Homo sapiens: one gene and its partners. The protein of the gene in region 1 interacts with the protein of each later gene in a pairwise test. Each region holds a gene or a part of one and is shown in the gene's direction. Other genes may lie near its edges. The genes, in order: ZNF229, CABP5 and TPM2.

Region 1 (7,107 bases):
AAGAGAACAACACGAAGGCCCGGTGATGAGGGCATGTGAAGAACAGCAAGGAAGCCAGAGCTGAGCAGAATGAGAAAGAGGGAGGATAAGTGGGAAACTGAATATTGGGAAGGAAGATAGTGTAAGGTCTTTGGGCCATTGAAAGGACCTTGGTGCAAGGTTTTGAGTAAAATGATGGTTTTGGCCAGAGAAGAATATGAGTTTATATTTTTAAAAGATCACTCCAGCTGCTGTGTAGGAAGTAGACTGAAACGAACAGGAGTAGGAATGCAGAGGCCATTTAGGGGGCTGTCACGTTAATGCAGGTGAGACATGATGGTGTGGACGGTGGCAGCAAGAATAATCTGATTCTGGTTCTGATTTGTAGGTATTTGCTGATGGATTGGATGTAGAGTACGAGGAAGAAATCAAGGATGACTAGAATATTTCCTCTTCATTTCAAAGGAGAGAAGTACCTCTAGGGGCAAATCTGGACTTTTCTTTTGAACATGTTTTTTGAGTTGCTTTTTAGACATAAGAGTGGAGATGGCAGGTTGCCATGGAGTCATCAGTGTGTAGATTGTGTTGAAGGCCTGAGGCTGGATATGTTCACCAAGGGAGTGAAAGAAGATAGAGAACTTTATGTGCTGACTCTTGAGGCTTCCTGACCTGAAGAGTTCAGGGATAGGAGGAGGAAGCACAAGGAAAATTTTTACCCACCGGAAGTCTCTGGAAACCCTGAAAATCAGCCAGTCAGAGGAAGTGAGGGTAACTTAGCAAGTTTGCTTCAGGTGTGGCCCCTGGACTCACTTTGTCAGCATCCCCTGGAAACGTTTAAAACACAGACTCCTGGGCTCTACTGCAGAGATACAGAATTAGAATCTTTGGAGCTGGACTCTAGCAGTCTGTTTTCATCATTGCTCATGGTGATTTTTAAACATACTGAAGTTTGCAAAGCGCAGTCCTAGAGGATCCTGAAGTTTGAGTTTAAGTGGCATTGCGGTGGAGGCCTTGTTTCAGATCTGGCCTCTACTCTTCCCTTTGTCCTTTGTGTAGGAGGGTAGCGTGTTGCCTGGTTGTCCACACCTGGGTCAAAGGGCAATCCCCAGTTCAGGGCAGTGCATGAAGGGAGGGAGAGAGAAAGATGCTTGTCACTGTGGGCCATGCAGAGGGCTGGTACAGATGGTTAGAGGAAAGAAGGAGATTTGAGTTCCTGAAGCAGTAAAATCCAGTGAGTGTCCTAGAGTAGACAGCCCAAGTATGTGTATCTGTTTGTCTGAACTTGACCTTGAGACTTGAATTTCAAGAGGAAAGAGGCCAGGCAAGGTGGGGAAGGGTGGAAACTCATGTCCACTGTCTTTGCACTACCTCCCGAGTAGCTCTGAGCAGATTGTAAGAGTTTTGTTCAATCTGTGTGCATCACCTCCTGCTGATAGAATTGCTTAGGACCCTTAAGTGCTTCCCGTGTGCCAGAGCCATGAAAGGTAAATAAAGAAAAAGAAGACTCAATTATTTTGATGACTTAGAGATCTGACCATGGAGGCCGTGTGAAAGGTGGTAACCAGCAATTTATACCATGTGTTGCTGGATCCCAGAGTAATTAATTCAGTCTGGGGGGTGGGGCGGGGCAGAAGAGGCTTAATTTTGAAAAGGAATTCTTGCCCTGGGCTCCATGAGCATAACTCAGGAGTTCCATGAATTTGAATGGGAAAAAAATTATACTAGTCTAAGTCACAAGTAGCATTTCATTGTGAACATAGGTGCTAAGCCACAATATTATTAGCAGTACTTGTGACTTTGTCATCCATATACATCATAGATATTTTTATGTCATATTCTGGTTTGTGCAAATATTTCAGAGTATTGTTTATGCTCATTACTCTTTTGAAATTGTAGTTAAATTTATTGTTTATATTGAATGTATTAATAAAGTGGCACTATACTTGCACAGTGAGCCATGCAGAGTTTTAATAGTTTTGAAGGTTGTATTTCCATATAATTCTTTGCATTTCATTTTATGCATTTAAAACTTTATTCTCAGTAGGGATCTTTAGGTATCATCAGATTAGTGAAGGGGGGCCATGGCACAAAAAAAGTTAAAAACGCTGACTAAAGATGGCTCTAATCTATATCCTGATTTCTATAATCCCTAAGTATGGGGATTTATTGTATTTTATTTTTTGCAAGTCAAACAGTATTGCGTTAATAAAGCTTTTCCTCTCCAGGTGTTTCTTCACAGGTCACAGGTCCCATATATTTGTGGGGTCTCTCTGCCCTTCTGAGGGGCCCTGTGCCTTACTGAGAATTTAGCTGCAGGACCCTCCTCACAGACTCTTCTGTGACTGTCCTTACCCATCTGCAACACTCTTGGCTTTGTGGACTATGAGCCCCTTCAGAGTAGGGGACTAAACCTAACAAGTACTCAGTAAATGTCCTGTAAACTACTGAATGAATAGTATCCAGGGGATGTGAACCACAGCCTTGGGGCCCAGAAGAAAGGACTAAGTAAAGTTCCCTCCCGAACCTACAGGTCCCCTGACCATGGGAAGCAGTCGCGCTCTGGACAGTAAAGGTGGAGACAGGAACTTGTCAGAGCTTGGAGAGTTTCCGGAATGAAAAAGGCCTGGATCTTCTGCGTCTCCAGCTTAGGAAAACCAGAGAATAAATACAGTTGCTGCTGCTCGCAGAGAACCTAGCAGAAGAGACCATGGAGACTTTGACCTCAAGGCATGAGAAAAGAGGTGACAGCTAATAGAGGGGGTGGGTGGGGGGAGAATCCAAACTGAGTGTGGAGGAGAAAAAGTTGGATGTTGAGGAATTTCCTCAAGTGAGAAGAAACCAGTCTGTAAAGCTGGGCACCTTCCTACCAGGTAGATGATCTAGAGCTTCAGGCAGCACCAACTCCTCCTCATGGCCTCTTTCTCCTCCTACAGCTCTTCATTCTCAAGCCTCAGCCATTTCCCAAGATAGGGAGGAGAAGATCATGTCTCAGGTGGGTTGTTTTCTTTTCTCTCCCGAAATACCACCTTAGGCATCAGAGAGAAAACATACGTCCCTTCTCGGTAAAAGGAAAAAGAGCGAAAAATGTATTGGGTGAATACATTTCTCGTTGCATTTATCCACAAAATAGTGATGTGAGACAGATAGTATGATTCTGTTTTAGAGATGAAGAAATGAATGGGGGATCCAGGATTTGAACTCAGGTAGGTCAATTGGATTCGATAATCTACCTTTCCGCTATGCCTTCCTGCCACCGCAATAGCTTCACGCAGAGGCCCAAGCCTAGATTAGCAGAGAGATGACTCTCCAAATACTGAATCATCGCTGCCTGGGTTGTTCTCCTCTGTGGAACGTTATTCATTTATAGATGTAATGTTCTCCATGTAGTAGACCCTACCAAAAGTATACCATGCACAAAGTTAAAAAAAGAAAAACATATTAGAAAAGTTTCATCTATGACAAAATTTTAATATCCTTATTTTCAGAAGAGGGTTATGCATAAAGACCTGAGCATTCTTGTTCAGGAAGGGAGCAGAGAAAAACTAATGCCCACTAATCATATGAAAAGACTATAAGCCTCTATTAATCAAAATGATACACATTGAAATAAGATTTATGATTATTCTAGCAGACAGCCAAAGATTTGAAAGGTCAACATGCACTGTTAGCTGGGATATGGAGAAATGGGTACATCCACACAGCTGCAGGAGTATTTCTGCCTTTCTAGAAGTTCTCCTTATTCTGGTCGAGCATTTCCCACTCTAAGAATTTTTTCTAAGTCAGAATAAATGTGCAAAGAATGATAATTGCAGCATCATTCATAACAGCCAAATGTGTATATACACATATATGTACACATATCTACAAATATATATACATATATATGTACACACACATATAGTGATATGGATTCCATGTTCATCTATTGAATTAGTGAATTGTAGTTTCATTCGTTCTTTTGTCTAGATTCTAAGCTGCTATCAAGCGATATAAAGTAAATGAAAATATAGGGATATGGAAATAGGCTATCCTTTAGTATATACATATTTCTTAATTTTCTTTTAAACTGAAAAAAATCATAGCCATTGCAGAATTTTAAGTATGTTTTTTCAACACATGAAACATTATTTTCTAAACCTTTCTTTTTATGAAAAGAGATTGTGAAATAATTTTGAAGATTTGATTCACTTCTTTTACTGTGTACCTTAATTTTAAATATTATTGATTACTTCCTGCTGTGAAAGTTGAAGCAATTAGCACGTTTTTACTTCCTACCATCTTCTGATTGTTATTATATTGTTATTGTCATTGTTATCTTCTGATTCGTCACCATAAGTTCCCCCAGTTGAGACTCACTTCTGTGTATTTAAGTCATTGCTCACCGCCTCTCCTTTTACCACAACTTTCTTACTTGAATTTATTTGTTGGTTGCCTCAATTTCATCTACAAAGACTTTGGATGCAGTCTTTTTGTTCCCCCACGCCAAAGACTTGGCTATAGTATCCTCTGCATTTTTCCAAGTTTAAGAATGTTGTGGGCCAGGTGCAGTGGCTCGTAATCTTAGCACTTTGGGAAGCTGAGGCATGCGGATCACTTGAGCTCAGGAGTTCGAGACCAGCCTGGGCAACATGGTAAAATCTTGTCTCTACAAAAATACTAAAAAATTAGCTGGGTGTGGTGGTGCATTCCTATAGTCCCAGCTACTTGGGGGTTGAAGTGGGAGGATTGCTTGAGCCCAGGGAAATCAAGGCTGCAGTGAACCAAGATCATGCCACTCTACTCCAGCCTGGGTGAAAAAGCGAGACCCTGTCTCAAAAAAAAAAAAAAGAATGTTGGTTTTATGTTCAAATTGCAAGTTGCCAGGGCTTAAAATTCTTCATTCACACTTTCTGGACTCAGTACAGGTTGTGTCATTTTCTTCTTGTATTAAGTCTTGTGTAGGACTTTGTATTGTGGCTTCTCCATTCACCTTCTGGTGAGCTAAATTCATTCTTGTCATTTTTTTCTAGAAGCATCTGTTGTGTTTATGCTTGGGTGTGTGGCATTTTCATGGATCACACTTTATTTTCCTTGCTCTGTTCTCTCGGGCATTAATTCTGTTTGTGCCTGATGTCAATTATTACTATTATTTAATCCAGTTGGTCTTCCTGGAATGCCTACTGGATAAATGGTGTAACTTCTGGATCTGTCCTTCCTATTCTTTCACTTTATTTTCTCTTTCTCTTTCTCTCCTTCCTTCTTCCTTTTCTTTTTCTTTTCTTTCTTCTTTCTTTTTGCCATTTTCCACTGTGTTCCAGAATCCTGTCCTGTTTTACAGTTCTTTCTTCTTGGATGTTCATTCATCTGTTTAGGCTAAGCTCTAAGTTGTTTTTTTCTTCCAATCCTAGCTGCGATTTTTTTTACACTTAAAAAATTTCTGATTAATTCTTTTTCTAGCAAGCTCCCCCCTACACAAAAATTGAGTGGGTGTAGCTTTTTGAGTCCTGTGTGTTAAGATGGTCTGTGCAGTTTACAACTGTGAGACTCTGTGGGACTCCCATGGAGATGTTTTTGGGTTGTCTGCCATACTCACTCATAGTATTAAACCTCTGTAGCTCAGCCATGTTAATAATACTAGTTTATATATATTTCATTATAACTTTTAAAATAAAGATTTAGTAGAAGACAGACCATACCAAGGTCTATAATGAAATAAATTAGGTTCCCCCAACTGTCCTCGCTAATATGCCCAACATTAACAAAGAGGTGTGAATCCATCAATATCTTTGTCATGTGAAAATATATGTTACCTTCTTTTTAAAAAGGAAATGGGGCTGGGCATGGTGGCTCACACCTCTAATCCCAGCACTTTGGGAGGCCAAGGCGGGCAGATCACCTGAGGCCAGAAGTTCAAGACCACCCTGGCCAACATGGTGAAACCCTGTCTCTACCAAAAGTAAAAAAATTAGCCGGGCATGGTGGCGCACACCTGTAATCTCAGGTACTCGGGAGGCTAAGGCAGAAGAATCGCTTGAACCTGGGAGGCGGAGGTTGCAGTGAGCTGAGATCATGCCACTGCACTCCAGCCTGGGCGACAGAGTGAGACTCCATCTCAAAAAAAAGGAAATGGAAACATGTATGCTTTCCATGTAGTGTGTATTTTACTACCATAAGATATTCAGTTCTGATTACTACCAGTTTTAGCACTACAAACAGTACAAACACATGTGATTTTTGCATCCTGTTCTTTAATCTTTAAATTCTATGATGTAAATGTCTGAATATTGCTGGCCCAAAGGGGTATACTTAGTGTGGAAAAAGCTACTGAAACTCTAAGTGCTGTTTGTATTCTGACACTCAGCAACAATAATCACAGGCAGAAGACTTCTGTGACCAAATGTGTGTGGGTTTCTCCTCAAGTAAGCAATCAGTTTTGTGGCAGTTTTGCTGGGTGCCCTTCGGTTCAATTCTGACACTGTCTGCCCGGAGGTAGTGTCAGATCCCACAGGTTGAGGGTTCTGTCCCACAAGAGACTGCTCCTCCCTCCCACCAGTTGCAAGTTTAGGCTTCCAGAACTTGTGACCAACCAGCTGCAAGTTGGGGTTCCCACAACCCACTCTTTGGGTTTGATTAATTTGCTAGAGCAGCTCACAGAACTCAGGGAAACACTTATGTTTACTGGTTTATTATAAAGGATATCACAAAAGGATACAGATGAAGAGATGCATGGGGCAAAGGTATGGGGTAAGGGGCATGGAGCTTCCATGCCCTCTCTGGGCATGTCACCTTCCCAGAATTTCTCTGAACCTGGTCCTCTTAGGTTTTTATGAAAGTTTCATTAGGTAGGCACCAGTGATCAACTTCACCCTCAGCTCCTCTCCCCTCACTGGAGGTTGGGGGAGGGGGAAGTACTATAAGTCTAATCCTCTAATCCTTCCTTGTTCTTTCCAGTAAGCAGCCCCATCCTGAAGCTACCTGCCAGCTGCCAGCTACTAGTCAACCCATTAGCATAGAAAAAGACATCACGGTGGAGTTTCTAAGGGCTTTTGGAGTTATATGCCACAGAGACCAAATATCTATTTCACAGCGTCACACACTTCGTTGTAAACTGTTAATATATTATTGCCACAATATTTGAGAAGAAATCAT
Region 2 (7,107 bases), 3.6 Mb from region 1:
TGCCAGGCTGGAGTGCAATGGCACGATCTCCTCTCACTGCTACCTCCGCCTCCCAGGTTCAAGCGATTCTTCTGCCTTGGCTGAGGCAGCCTCCCTAGTAGCTGGGATCAAAGGCATGAGCCACCATGCCCAGCTAATTTTTTTGTATTTAGTAGAGATGGGGTTCTGCCATGTTGGTCAGTCTGGCCTCAAACTCCTCACCTCAGGTGATCCACCCACCTCGACCTCCCAAAGTGCTGGGATTACAGCCATGAGCCACCACATCCGGCCTTGGTTTTTTTGTTTTGTTTTGTTTTGTTTCTAATGTACGCTCCTTTAAGGAGTCTCTAGTTGGAGCCTCATTGATAGCTTCAAGAGATGCCACTCTTCCCCACTGACTGCTTCAAGTTCCCCCAAAGTTCTCTCTTAACTTTCAGAGCTGCGGGAAGCATTTCTTGAGTTCGATAAGGACCGAGATGGGTTCATCTCTTGTAAGGATCTGGGGAATCTCATGAGGACGATGGGTTACATGCCCACGGAGATGGAACTGATTGAGCTCGGCCAGCAAATCCGCATGAACCGTGAGTCCAGGGAATGGGAGGGATGGCCGGGGTTAGGGAAGGGATCAGGGCAGAATTGGGAAGGATGTAGAGGTTAAGAGTAGAGTTGGGGGTGGAGAGGAGGATGAGAGGGACTAGAAGTCTGGAAGAAAACAGGTCAGATTCGACTCAGGAAGGCAGCATTTGAAGTGGTTAAAAGCTTTTAGAGATAGGTCTGGGTTCAAATCTCAGTTCTATTATTTACTAATTACAGTCATTTTGAAAAGTGAAGTTATCCGCTACTCTTCAGTTTCCATTTCCTCATCTATAGAGGAAGATGCCTCTCTCCTTACCTCATGGGACTGTGGAAAGGAAGAGAAGGAAGAGATAAAGATGCTGATGCAGTTAAAGTCTTAGCCTCCAGTAAATTCTTATTAAAGGTAGTTATTACTATCACCACTAAGATTCATCAGTGGAGCACGAGATTGGAGCTGTATTGGATGTTGGAAACAAACTTGGAGCTGGAGCTAATGTTGGTGAATACAGCTGCAAAAAGGATGGATGGATTTTTGGATGGAGATCATAACTGATTTTTAGATTTTAGCTAGAATAAAATTCCTATTGAGGCTGGGCGCAGTGTCTCACACCTGTAACCTGTAATTCCAGCACTCTGGGAGGCTGAGGTGGGCAGATCACCTGAGGTTAGGGGTTTGTGAACAGCATGGGCAACATGGTGACACCCCGTCTCTACTAAAAATACAAAAAATTAGCCAGGCGTGATGGCGTGCACCTGTAATCCCAGCTACTCGGGAGGCTAAGGTACGAGAATCGCTTGAACCCGGGAGGCAGAGGTTGCAGTGAGCCGAGATCGCACCATTGCACTCCAGCCTTGGCAACAGAGTGGGACTCTGTCTCAAAAAAAAAAAAAAAAAAAAAAAAAAAAGCTATTGGGTTTGCTTCTGGGCATGTAACGAACTAAACAAGGTTGAATTCAAGGTAATGATAGTATTCATATCTGAAAAAAAAATTGTATGCTCATTTAATTCATGCTCCTCTTTGTACAGGTCTACAGAGGAGGAGAAACATCTTAACCAACTGTCTGAAAGTCACACAGGCAGTTACTTCCACCATACCACACCCTATCCACTCCTGTTCAGGCTAGAGGGACATGAGTTTGGAGCTTGGAGTTAGCTGCTGGAGGGAGGAAGTCAAAGACGGCTCTTATAGGGCAGGGAGAAGGGAGCTGATCTAACTGACTCGAAGCACAAAGTGAGGTAATGGAAGGCCAGGGCTTGTGGGGTCTCGCTAATCCTGTGCCATCTTCCTCAGTGGGTGGCCGTGTAGACTTTGATGACTTTGTGGAGCTGATGACCCCCAAATTGCTTGCAGAAACAGCTGGGATGATCGGTGTCCAGGAGATGCGGGATGCCTTCAAGGAGGTGAGTTAACAGTGTCATGGTGCTGGTGATGGTAGAGGCAGACCCTCTGAGGTCTGCCTGTAATTAGCCAATGCCATGGACAGCACCCACCAACCAGGCCCCCACCTTTTTTTTTCCAGCCATGGTGGGATCAATAAATAGGGAAGAAAAATAACGTATTCCAAACACCTGCAATGGATCAATGCCTCTGTATACTTTATCTGATTTAATCCTCAAAAAAACAAACAAACAAAAACAAAAACACGCACACAAACACATTAGGAGTAAGCAAGCAGTCATGTATCCCAATTAAACAGATGAGAAAAGTGAGGCTCATGAAGATTATAAATCTTATCCAAGATCCTGCCATCTCTAGAATAAATGTTAGGACTTTTTTTTTTTGAGACGGGGTTTCACTGTTGTCCCCAGGCTGGAGTGCAATGGTGCAATCTCGGCTCACTACAACCTCTGCCTCCCGGGTTCAAGCCAGTCTCCTGTCTCAGCCTCCTAAGTAACTGGGATTACAGGTGCGCGATACCACACCCAGCTAATTTTTGTATTTTTCGTAGAGACGGGGTTTCACCATGTTGACCAGGCTGGTCTCGAACTCCTGACCTCAAGTGATCCACCTGCCTCGGTCTCCCAAAGTGCTGGGATTACAGGCATGAGCCACCGTGCCTGGCCAGGGCCTCTATTCTTAGTGCCTGTAACAGGAAGAATCCAAGAATTTGAGATCCCAGAAGGGAATGCAAAGTGGTCATCTGGTACGAACCACTTGCTGCAGACATACTAAAAAATATCAGACCCAGTGAGAATAACAGACTTGCTTATATCCCCTGATAAAATACCTTCTCGTTCTGAGAGCTTTCAGCAACACAAGGTGAAAATAAAGAGTAGTAGAGTGTTTGGGAGCAAAGGATTTGGAACCAGGCAAACATGGGTTCAAATCCTAGGAGGCCTCCACCTATTGGCTGTGCAAGTGCCTCCCCCAGCTTCTTATAAAGATCTACAGCTGGCCGGGCTCAGTGGCTCACACCCATAATCCCAGCACTTTGGGAGGCCGATGCAGGTGGATCACAAGGTCAGGACTTTAAGACCAGCCTGGCCAAGATGCTGAAACCCCGTCTCTACTAAAAATGCAAAAAAATTTAGCCAGACATGGTGGTGGGCGCCTGTAATCCCAGCTACTTGGGAGGCTGAGGCAGGGAATTGCTTGAACCTGGGAGGCAGAGGTTGCAGTGAGCTGAGATCGCACCATTGCATTCCAGCCTGGGTTATAAGAGTGAAACTCCATCTCAAAACAAAAAGAAAAAGTTGTCTGGATTGAGAAGTGCTGTAAGTGTAACGTGAACACTGTATTAAGACTTAGTATGCTAATATAATTAGCATAACGTACTTGTATACTTAAGTAAACTTCTAGGCTAAGTATCCTAATTAAGCATGCTAAGCACCTACTAAGAACTTAGAACTTACTGCCTTATGAAATCCAGTGTGTATAAAAAGAATGCTACTTACATAGCTAAATTAATAATTTTTAAGTGGATTACATGATGAAAGGATAACACTTTAGATATATTGTGTCAAATAAAAGAGAATATTAAAAATTAGTTTCATTTGTTCCTTTTAACATTTTTTTAAACGTCACTACTAGAAAATTTTAAGGCCAGGTGCAGTGGCTCATGCCTGTAATCCCAGCACTTTGGGAGGCTGAGGTGGGTGGATCACCTGAGGTCGGGAGTTTGAGACCAGCCTGACCAACATGGAGAAACCCCGTCTCTACTAAAAATACAAAATTAGCTAGGCGTGGTGGTACATGCGTGTAATCCCAAGTACTCAGGAGGCTGAGGCAGAAGAATCGCTTGAACCCGGGAGGCAGAGGTTGCAGTGAGCCAAGATCGCACCACTGCACTCCAGCCTGGGTAAAAAGAGCGAAACTCCACCTCAAAAAAAAAAAAAAAAAAAAAAAAAAGCTGAATAGTATTCCATTGTGTACTTATGCCATGTTTTCTTTATCCACTCTTCTGTTTTGATGGACACAGGTTGCTTCCATACCTTGGCTATTGTGAATAGTGCTGCCATGAGCAGGGGAGTGCAAACATCCCTTTGATATACTGATTTCAATTACTTTAGATACATACCCAGAAGTGGTATTGCTGGGTCATATGGCAGCTCTAGGTTTAATTTTCTAAGGAACCTCCATACCATTTTCCATAATAGCTGTGCTAATTTCCATACCCAGCAAAAGTGTACCAGGGTTCCCTTTTATCCACATCCTCACCAACACTTGTTATTATTCATCTTTTTAACAGTAGCCATCCTAACAGATGTGAGGTGATATTTCATTGTGGTTTTAATTTAAATTTCCCAAATGATTAGTGATGCTGAGCATTTTTTTCACGAACTTGTTTGCCATTTGTCTGTCTTCTTTAGAGAGATAGCTGTTCACGTCTTTTGCCCATTTGTCTTCTTTAGAGAGATGGCTGTTCACGTCTTTTGCCCATTTGTCCTCTTTAGAGAGATGGCTGTTCACGTCTTTTGCCCATAGTTATTAGATTGATGCAAAAGTAATTGTGATTTTGCCATTAAAAGCAATATTTGTCATTATGCAGTATTATTAATTATAGGCACAATGCCACACAGCAGATCTCTAGAACCTATCTTGCGTAACTGAAACTTTATACCCATGGTACAATATCTCCCCATTTCCCTGTCCTCCTAACCCCCAGCAACTATCCTTCTACTCTCTGCTTCTATGAGTGTGGTTATTTTAAGTACTTCATATGTAAGTGGAATCATGCAGTATTTCTCCTTCTGCGTGGTATATATTTAAATGCAATATTCAGCCTTACAAAAGAAGGAAATCCTGCCCCACACAACAACACAAATGAACCTGGAGGACAGTATGCTGGGTGAAATAAGCCAGGTACAGAAGACAAGTATTTCTAAGTGTCTTGCTTGCTGCTCCGTGCTCAGTCCCAAGAACGGTGCCTTCCACATGGGCACTACTGACACATTTTTTTTTAGCAATATGGATACATATGTGTTGAATTAATGAACTGCCTCCAAAGCTCTGCCCTGCACACCCTTAACTAGTCTACCAGAAAGTCTAGTACGTTCAATTTCCAAAACATCGGGGAGTGAACTCTCCTTCTTGAGCTCTGCTGGTGCTAACTGGCTCAAACCACAACCATCTCCTACCAGGATGATCATGGCGGCCCTCTAATTGGTTTCCTGGCTCCCATCGTGGTCCTACTGTGGTCTGTTCTCTACACAACAGGGTTTCATGCTCACATTCTTTTAAAATGTATATCAGATCTGGTCACTCCCCTGCTTAAAATTCTCCAGTGGCTTCTTGTCTTACTCAGAACCAAATCCTGACAACGTCCCATGACACACAAGCCCCTACGTACTTGGGCCCTGCCTTCTGCAACACTGAGACCTTGTCTATTTCATGCTCATTTCTCCCCAGCTCACGCCTCCCTAAACACTCCCCACTTCTGCCTCTTCCTCAAGTACACCTTCCTGCCTTACGGCACTTGTTAACTTGCAGCTTCCTCAGCCTACAGCTGTGTCATCCAAAATAAATACAATGTAAGCAGCATGGGTCATTTAAAATTTTCTTTCTCTTTTTTTGAGACAGTTTTGCTCTTGTTGCCCAGGCTGGAGTAGAATGGCACAATCTTGGCTCACCACAACCTCCACCTCCCAGGTTCAAGCGATTCTCCTGCCTCAGCCTCTCGAGTAGCCGGGACTACAGGCATGCGCCACCACGCCTGGCTAATTTTGTATTTTTAGTAAAGACGGAGTTTCTCCATGTTGGTCAGGCTGGTCTCGAACTCCTGACCTCAGGTGATCCACCCGCCTTGGCCTCCCAAAGTGCTGGGATTACAGGCATGAGCCACTGAGTCCGGCATATTCAGCTTTTAAAAAGAAGGAAACTCTATCATTTACAACAACATGAATAAACATGAAGCACATTATTCTAAGCTATATAAGCCAGGCACAAAAGGACAAATACCACATGATGTTACATGCAGAATCTTAAAAAATTGAACTCATGCAAATAAAAAGAAAGGTGGTTAGCAGAGGCTGGGGAGCCACAGAGAAGGAATGGACAGTTGCTTGTCAAAGGGTACAAAGTTTTGGTTAGACAGGAGGAATAACTTTTGAGATCTATTGCACAGCAGGATAACTATAGTAAATAATAATGTATGTTTCAAAAATCACCTAAAAAGTAAGTTTTAAATGTATCGCTGGGCACTTTGGCTCAGGACTGTAAGCCTAGCACTTTGGAAGGACAAGGTGGAAGGGTTGCTTAAGGCCAAGATTTTAAGACCAACCTGGCCAAAATAGTGAGACCCCGTCTCATTAAAAAAAAGTTTCGGCCGGGCACAGTGGCTCAAGCCTGTAATCTCAGCACTTTAGGAGGCTGAGGCAGGTGGATCAACTGAGGTCAGGAGTTCAAGATCAGCCTGGCCAACATGGTGAAACCCTGTCTCTACTAAAAATACAAATATTAAACAGGTTTGGTGGTGCGCGCCTGTAATCCCAGCTACTCGGGAGGCTGAGGGACGAGAATCGCTTGAATCCAGGAGGTGAAGGCTGCAGTGAGCTGAGATTGCACCACTGCACTTCAGCCTGGGTGACAGGGTGAGACTGTCTCAAATAAAAAAAAAAAAAAAAAGAAAGAAAAAAAGAAAAAAAAAAACAGAACAAAACTGTCTTTTGGAGCTGACGTTCTAGTGGCTCACATTCCCAAAGCTTTTATCTCAGTGCTTGACCCACAGTAAGCGATAGGTAAACTCCATCATCTCGTGGCTATCATCATTGTCATTGCTGATATAATCTATTTCTGCTTCTATTCAGTTTGACACGAATGGAGATGGGGAGATCACCCTGGTGGAGCTACAGCAGGCCATGCAGAGACTCCTGGGGGAGCGGCTCACCCCCCGGGAGATCTCTGAGGTTGTCCGGGAGGCTGATGTTAATGGAGACGGCACAGTTGACTTTGAAGGTGACATTGACGGGGCGTGGTGGGGAGCGGGGGCAGCCACCGCAGGAATCCACTTCCAACTCACTGTCAGATTTTCCAAGTTGGCCACTCCTTCTCACTCCTCTCCAAGTTTGAGAATGGAAGCGGGTGGCAGGTTTTGGAAGCATTTGTTCTGTCC
Region 3 (7,588 bases), on another chromosome or scaffold:
TATTTTCCATATGACGAATGCACGGTGTTACAAAATTATGCATGGGTAAAAGATCCAATCAGGTGCAGTTCAGAAAAACGGATTTTTTTTTTTTTTTTGAGACAGAGTCTTGCTCTGTCACCCAAGCTGGAGTGCAGTGGTGCAATCTCGGCTAACTGCAACCTTCGCCTCGCAGGTTCAAGTGATTCCCCTGCCTCAGCCTCCCGAGTGGCTGGGATTACAGGCGTGTGCCACCACCACACCTGACTAATTTTTGTAGTTTTAGTAGAGACGGGAGGGTTTCACCATGTTGGCCAGGCTGGTCTCGAACTCCTGACCTCAGGTGATCCACCCACCTTGGCGTCACAAAGTGCTGGGATTACAGGCGTGAGCCACCACACTTGGCCAAAACAACGGATTTTAGTTTAACAGTACAAAAAGGTCACTGATATGGTTTCACATTCTACATTGCAACTGCCCCTTAAGAAACTGCCAATTATCGGCCAGGCACAGTGGCTCAGGCCTGTAATTCCAGCACTTTGGGAGGCTGAGGCAGGAGGGTAGCTTGAGCCTAGGAGTTTGAGACCAACCTAGGCAACATAGTGGCACACCATCTCTATTTAAAAAAAAAAAAAAAAGGGCCGGGTATGATGGTGCACATGTGTAGTCCCAGCTACTGGAGGAGACTGAGGCGGAGAGAGCACTTGAGCCCAGAAGGTCAAGGCTGCAGTGAGCCAAGCCGTGATTGTGTCTCTGCACTACAGCCTGGGTGACAGAGCCAGACCTTGTCTCAAAAAAACATAAATATGCCAGGCCCGGCATGGTGGCTCACGCCTGTAATCCCAGCACTTTGGGAGGCCAAGGCAGGCAGATTATCTGAGTTCAGGAGTTCAAGACCAGCCTAGCTAACACAGTGAAACCCCGTCTCTACTAAAAATATAAAAAGTTATCTGGGCATGGTGGCGGGCGCCTATAGTTCCAGCTACTTGGGAGGCTGAGGCAGGAGAATGGCGTGAACCTGGGAGGCGGAGGTTGCAGTGAGCCGAGATTGTGCCACTGCACTCCAGCCTGGGCAACAGAGCGAGACTCCGTCTCAAAAAAACAAAACAAACAAACAAAAAATACAACAGTTAGCTGGGTGTGATGGCTTATGCCTGTAGTCCCAGCTACTCGGGAGGCTGAGGCGGGAGAATCACTTGAACCTGGGAGGCGGAGGTTGCAGTTAGCTGAGATCGCCCCACTGCACTCCAGCCTGGGTGACAGCGCGAGACTCTGTCTCAAAAAAATAAACAAATAATAATAATAATAAATAGGCCAGGCGTGGTGGTTCACGCCTGTAAGCCCAGCACTTTGGGAGGCCAAGGCAGGCGGATCACTTGAGGTCAGGAGTTCGAGACCAGCCTGGCCAACATGGTGAAACCCTGTCTCTACTGAAAATACAAAAATTAGTCAGGCATGGTGGTGCATGCCTGTAGTCCCAGCTACTCAGGAGGCTGAGACAGGAGAATTGCTTGAACCTGGGAAGCGGAGGTTGCAGTGAGCCAAGATCGCACCACCGCACTCCAGCCTGGGCAACAGAGCAAGACTGTTTCAAAATAAATAAATAAAATAATAAATAAATCTTTCCAACTGCATATCTGTTGTGAGACAGGATTTTCTTCATATGTCTCAGTAACCAACATATAGCAACAGATCAAATATGGAAGGAGATATTGATAATACAGCTGTCCCCTTGGAAGCCAGAGAGTAAAGAGATTCGTAAAAATGTAAAATAATTTCCATACTCTCATTAATTCGGGGAATGGGAATATAGTTATCTTTCATTTAGAACATTATGTTAACATGATTAATGTGTAATGAGTTTATTTTTGTTATTTTTAACGAATTGATACATATTTAAAATTTTTCTCAAGTTTCATTTTAATATGGCAACTATTGGTAGATATAACCCACTTCAACAAAAAAGCTGTTTGGGGGTCTTCAATACTTTTTAAGAGTGTAATGGGTTCTAAGACCAAAAGACCCACACCGTATTAGTATATTTGATAAGTACCCAGAAACTGGTACATAAAAAACTCATCTGGCAAATGTTCATGAAGTGCCAACTCTATGCCTGGTGCTGTGATAGGCCTTGGGGATTCAGAATTGAGAACAGTCGTTTCTGTTGAGGACTCACAGACCGGCGGAGGCGCCAAACCGGTATAAGAACAGTTATACCATGGGACTAGGATGAGGGTGAGAGCCCGCACCAAGAACACGCACCTATTAGGTGAGGCGGTGGGAAGAGAAGTGGCCAGGGAAGGCTTCCCAGAAAAGCTGACACTTACTGAGTCTTAAAGGCCACCAGGAATCAGCCAAGGGGATGGGCATTTTAGGGAGAGAGAACAGAATGCATAAACTGTGGAAGCTTTAAGAAAAGTATGGCTATTTCCAGCTCCTGCACGTAGCTCATTATGAATGCAGCATGAGGTACAAGTATGAATACTGGGGGTGAGGTTGGGCATGGAAGGAGATGAGGCCAGAGAGGCAGGCAACAGCCAAAACAACGGGCCTTCTATACCATATTAAGAAATGTGGATTTTTTTTTTCTCCTCAAAACAGGCAGGGTGCCCGCACGCCTGTAATCCCAGCTACTCAGGAGGCTGAGTCGGGAGGATCACTTAAGCCCATAAGTTCAAGACCAGCCTGGGCAATCTAGCAAGCTCCCGTCTCAAAAAAGGTGGGGGGACAGGGATTAGGGAGGGGTTTTGGAGAATTTTAGATAATATTCGCATTAACTTTTAAAAAGATATTTGACAACAATGTCATGGGACAGTCAAATGAATGAATGAGTTGAGGAACTAGAAGTAAGACTACAAAACAGACTGAAGAAAACATAAGGCGCGGCCAGAGGCCAGCCCAGACCGACCCGAGGAGGAACCTCCTTGGTAGAAGGCAGCCTCTCCAGGATTAGGTGGTTGTGAGACGCGAAGGGCAGGGGATACCCAGTGGTCTAGCATAGGCTACTGGTGGATGAGGCGTCTTCCACGGAGTTAGAGGAACACTGCGAGGTCAGGCCAGGGTTGCTCTCCGTGTGGCTAGCAGGCAGCTAAACAGATCTGAATGCATTTCCACGCCACCTCCCCACCGCCCCGGCCAGCGGCCTCGGGTTCCCACGGTCCCCAGCCCACTGCAAAATCCAGGCCTCCCGCCCCTCTATGACTGGAGGGTGGGGGCGAGGCTAGCAGCTCCCTCCCGGCTTCCTCCGCTTGTTCTCTCCTCCCCTTCCCCCTCCTCCCGGCGGCTCTCCACTTCCTTTCCCCCCACCCCACCCCAGGGAAAAACGAAAACAAACACCCTCGCGCCTCGCGCCTCCGACTCCCAGACCCCACGACCCGGCTCCGGCGCTGGTTTGGCGGCCTGGGTGGGAGAAGGCACCTCGCCCCGGACCCCCTATGCCCCGCAGCTCAGTGACTCTTCCCCTCGCCCTCCGCCTTCCCCGCCGCAGCCCGGCTCCGCCTCCCAATGGGGAAACATCCCAAAAAAGGGCAGAAAAGAAATTTCAGCATAAAGTTGGCCCACTGGGAAAGAGAGGAGCGTCCGCGGGGAGCGGGGGAGAAGAGGGAAGGCGCGCGGAGGGGAGTGGGGCCAGGCGGAGCCAGGGGCGGGGAGCGGAGGGGCTCGGGACGCGTCCGGGTGGGAGCGGGGGCGGGGAACGCGCGGTGACCAGCCTGGCCGCAGCCGCGTGGAAAATATGCGGGGCACGTGGGGGGCGGGGCGGGGAGCTGGGTCCTGAGCCGCCGGGTGCTCGCAGGAAGGGCCTGGCTCCAGGGGCAGGGGCTGGGAGGGGAGGCGAGGGGATGAGAGGTCAGGCCGGTCCTGGGGGCAGCAAGCCCGGCCACACTCCCCACCGCGACCGGGGCTCTGGGCTCGCTTCCTGCTTCAGTTTCCCCAAGCTCCCGATGAGACTCCGCTACTACCACCACGTCGATAACGCAAACCTAGAGGGACTCAGGGTAAACTGAGGCACTCAAACTGCCGAGGAGCTCCGCCTCCCGAGAGACATTTAATCCGGGGGGATTTGCAGGAAACTTCTAAATTAAGGGTAGCGGCTGCTGCAGCTGAGGGGGGGCACGCCGGTCCCTGCGCCCGGGCAGCTGCCGTGAGCTCACGCCCCGAAATAGCCCCAGGGGCCCCAGCCGCAGCTGCCACTGGGTCCGGCTGTCACTCAGAGGAAGCACGGAGCCCCCAGCCCAAGGGTCCCCTCCCCTTCGCATCGCCGGGGTTTTTCCAGCCGACCGTCGGCCACTTTTTCCTCCGACGGCTGGCAGGGAAGAGGGGGATGGGGGCGGGACCCCAAGGGAGGCGGTCCCCAGTGGGTGGGCGAAGGGGGCGGCCGCACCCCCCGGCCGGGCCGTGCTTCTGCCCCTACAAGGTTTGGGCCGAGGTGGGGGAGGGTCCTGGTTGCCGGCCCCGCCCGGTCCCTCCCCGCCTTTTAGGCGCCCGCGTGGCCGGGACGTCCCAGTCCCGCTCCGTCCTCCTCGCCTGCCACCGGTGCACCCAGTCCGCTCACCCAGCCCAGTCCGTCCGGTCCTCACCGCCTGCCGGCCGGCCCACCCCCCACCGCAGCCATGGACGCCATCAAGAAGAAGATGCAGATGCTGAAGCTGGACAAGGAGAACGCCATCGACCGCGCCGAGCAGGCCGAAGCCGACAAGAAGCAAGCTGAGGACCGCTGCAAGCAGGTTAGGGCCGGGCCCAGTGCAGCCTGCTCTCCCCGCGCCTAGGGCAAGGGTGGGCCGCTGCCATGGGTCCCCCAGCCCCGGGCCTGCCCGCCAAGGCTCTCTCTCACCCAGGGTGGGGGCTGGGCCTTCGCAGTACCCTCAGGGCCTTCGCCAGAGCCGCTTCTCTCCCCTACAATAGCCTGGGGAAGCCCCAGGCCCCTGGTTTCCACTCTGCCTTTGCAGAGCGCGGTTGGTCCTGCTCCTTGGGGCCTGAAGTTTTCTCTGTACCCTCAACGGGTCCCACCAGTACCCTTGACTGTACTGTCCCTTTTATGTTATTCCGCTTCCATCCCAGTAGCCTCCAAATCTTAGTAGCGCCCCTACACACACCGCGTCTCCATTCTGGGCCTGGGCCCCCTCCCAGCCTGGCTGACCAAGTCCCCTCTGTCCCAGCTGGAGGAGGAGCAGCAGGCCCTCCAGAAGAAGCTGAAGGGGACAGAGGATGAGGTGGAAAAGTATTCTGAATCCGTGAAGGAGGCCCAGGAGAAACTGGAGCAGGCCGAGAAGAAGGCCACTGATGTGAGTGTGGACTTGGGGGACAATGGGAGGAGTTAGGGCTCTGGGAAGGGGCCCCCCGGGTATGGGAATAAGAGGATTGGGGCACCTTATCCCCTTATGTCCCCAGCGCCAGGAGAGAAATGGTTTCATCTCAGTAACCAGGGCTAGGGTAAACTTACACAAGTAATCCAAGACAGTGGATAAATCAAAACCACCTACCACTTCCCCCAGAGGACTTAGCCCTGTAATTCTGTTTGGTTCCAGCTTTTAGAATGTACAGTGATCAAGCAATGAGTCATTGTGGGGGTGGAAGGTATAAGAATTTACCATCTACCTCAATTAATCCTCCAGCTGAAATTGGAGAGGAGACTGCAGCCGTTTGGGGATGGGGGGATGTGGATGTGAGGTACTAGCCTGCAGGAGGAGGGAGAGGGATCCAGAGATGAGACCCCACTTGAGTTACAACCCTAAGGGGCCATTAGAAATTCCCTGGCCTTGACCTCTGGCTTCAGCAGCCCTGCTGTGCCCTGGGGCCCCAGCTCAGGTTCTAATGGCTCCTCATTTACCCTCATTAAGCTGTCAGCCTGGAGACCATGCCAGGCCACAGGGCAGAGGGACAGGGCCACAAATGCCAAAGCAGCTACCTTGGCAGGTCATTTACCCTGAGATTTCTCTGCCCACCCCACAACCCCAACCAGACTTCACTTCCTGCCATTCCCAACCCCCAGCTTAAGGTAGGAGAATGGCCATATGGCTTTGGTGTGGTGGTAGTTTCCCCATTCTCTGCCTCAGTTTCCCCATCTTCCTTCCACCCAGGATTGTTTTAAGATGAACCTATGGTTAGATTAGCATAAAGCATGGTCTGAACATCAGAGATGACATAGCTGTTTGTGTCGACTGCTCATGTTCCCAGCCCCCCAGGGGTTGGGCTTCTGTGACCTCCAGCCTCCAGTTTTGGTTCTCCACCAGTCCTGGCACTTGGGAGGGAGCTGACCTGCAGCTGCTAGCACAGACAACCCTGGGCATCTGACACTCTATAAATAACCAAGGCCCAGTGCAGCTGGAGGCAAGATTGGAAACCCAAGTTGCTGGTGGGGGCTGGAGGGGCAGGGGGGACAGGGACAGAGCTGGGGAGGCAGAGCCGCAGCACCAGGAGCAGATAGGAAAGACTGCCCAAGCTTCCTGGTGACCTTGAACACAGCACTCAACTTACATGGTGCCTCAGTTTCTCCCTCTCTCTTGCTTCCCATTTTTCTAATGGGGACAGTAGTGCCTGTCCTGTGGTTAGAGAGCCGCCCCCGTAACTGGGAAGAGCTTGAGAGGCAGGAAATGGCACATATCAGTCCCATGATGAGGACCCCAGGACTTCCCAAACTTTCCAGAGTCTTTTGTCACCCCACCATCATGCAGAGTTTTTCTTTTACAGTCTCACCTCTCTCTAGGGTAGTACTCCAATGTCCCCCACAGTGATTCTTCCCAACCCCCAATGCTGTCCCCAGAATGCTTCCACACTGTCATCCGGCCCTGTGCCCATGATGGGCTCTTGTCACTCTAGGTGGCCAAGCTCCAGGTGCCTTCAGCACCTGGAAGACAAGCTACCATCTACTCTCTATATATGGTGCTGTTTCTCCTGCCCTACAGTCCGACCAAGGACCTGCTTCCTATGCTGTGTCCAAGTGCTGCCCCCAGCCCCTCCCCCCACCTCCTTTCCCTACACAGGTCCTCTCTCCTTTCCACTCTGAAATCTCAGGGTCTCTGTGTCCTTGTTTTTGACAGAGAAAGGGGATAACCTAATATTTATGGAATGTGGACCCTGTGCAGGCAATGTACTCAGTGCTTTCTGCATGTTATTTTACAATTTCCCAAACTTGGCTTATCATCAGAATCACTCGGGGGCTTTAAAAAAAAAAGAGAAGATTCCCAAGCCCCCGCCCTACACATCCCAATTCAGTGGATCTAGCATGGAGTAAGAGAACCTGTTTAGTTTTATGAGTCTCACCGAAGGTCCTGTTGATTAACTGAGTATTAAAAGCAGTGGATTATCTCAGAACAGCCTTAAGAAGGAGGAACTGTTATTGTTAACTCCAACTTGTGAAGGAGGAAACTGAAGCTTAGAGAGGCTAAATAAGTTGCCCACAGTTACACAGGTGTTGAGTGGCTGAGCCGTGGCTCAAAGACAATCTGACTCAGAGCCGATGCTCTTAACACGTGGCTGCCCTGCTCCTCTCATTTTCCTTTACTGGCGCTCGCCTTGCTCTGCCCTTTTTCTCAGTGTTTGACCAGTTTTTATGGATTTTTTCCAAAACCTCCATGGTTTTGCCTCCTACTGCAAGCCCAGGGGCTGAGTA

Evidence for each region.
Region 2: the proteins of ZNF229 (region 1) and CABP5 interact in binary tests that used the Homo sapiens proteins (3 or more experiments, as listed by UniProt).
Region 3: the proteins of ZNF229 (region 1) and TPM2 interact in binary tests that used the Homo sapiens proteins (3 or more experiments, as listed by UniProt).

What each region holds. Positions count from the first base shown.
Region 1 is NC_000019.10:44,438,427-44,445,533, reverse strand, and holds part of ZNF229 (zinc finger protein 229), read left to right. Parts: intron 1-367; exon of another isoform or gene 368-2,509; 5' UTR 2,510-2,686; coding exon 2,687-2,720; intron 2,721-2,912; coding exon 2,913-2,971; intron 2,972-7,107. UniProt on the Homo sapiens protein: May be involved in transcriptional regulation.
Region 2 is NC_000019.10:48,034,058-48,041,164, reverse strand, and holds part of CABP5 (calcium-binding protein 5), read left to right. Parts: intron 1-416; coding exon 417-560; intron 561-1,847; coding exon 1,848-1,957; intron 1,958-6,802; coding exon 6,803-6,950; intron 6,951-7,107. UniProt on the Homo sapiens protein: Inhibits calcium-dependent inactivation of L-type calcium channel and shifts voltage dependence of activation to more depolarized membrane potentials. Involved in the transmission of light signals.
Region 3 is NC_000009.12:35,686,819-35,694,406, reverse strand, and holds the start of TPM2 (tropomyosin beta chain), read left to right. Parts: upstream 1-4,481; 5' UTR 4,482-4,589; coding exon 4,590-4,703; intron 4,704-5,135; coding exon 5,136-5,261; intron 5,262-7,588. UniProt on the Homo sapiens protein: Binds to actin filaments in muscle and non-muscle cells. Plays a central role, in association with the troponin complex, in the calcium dependent regulation of vertebrate striated muscle contraction.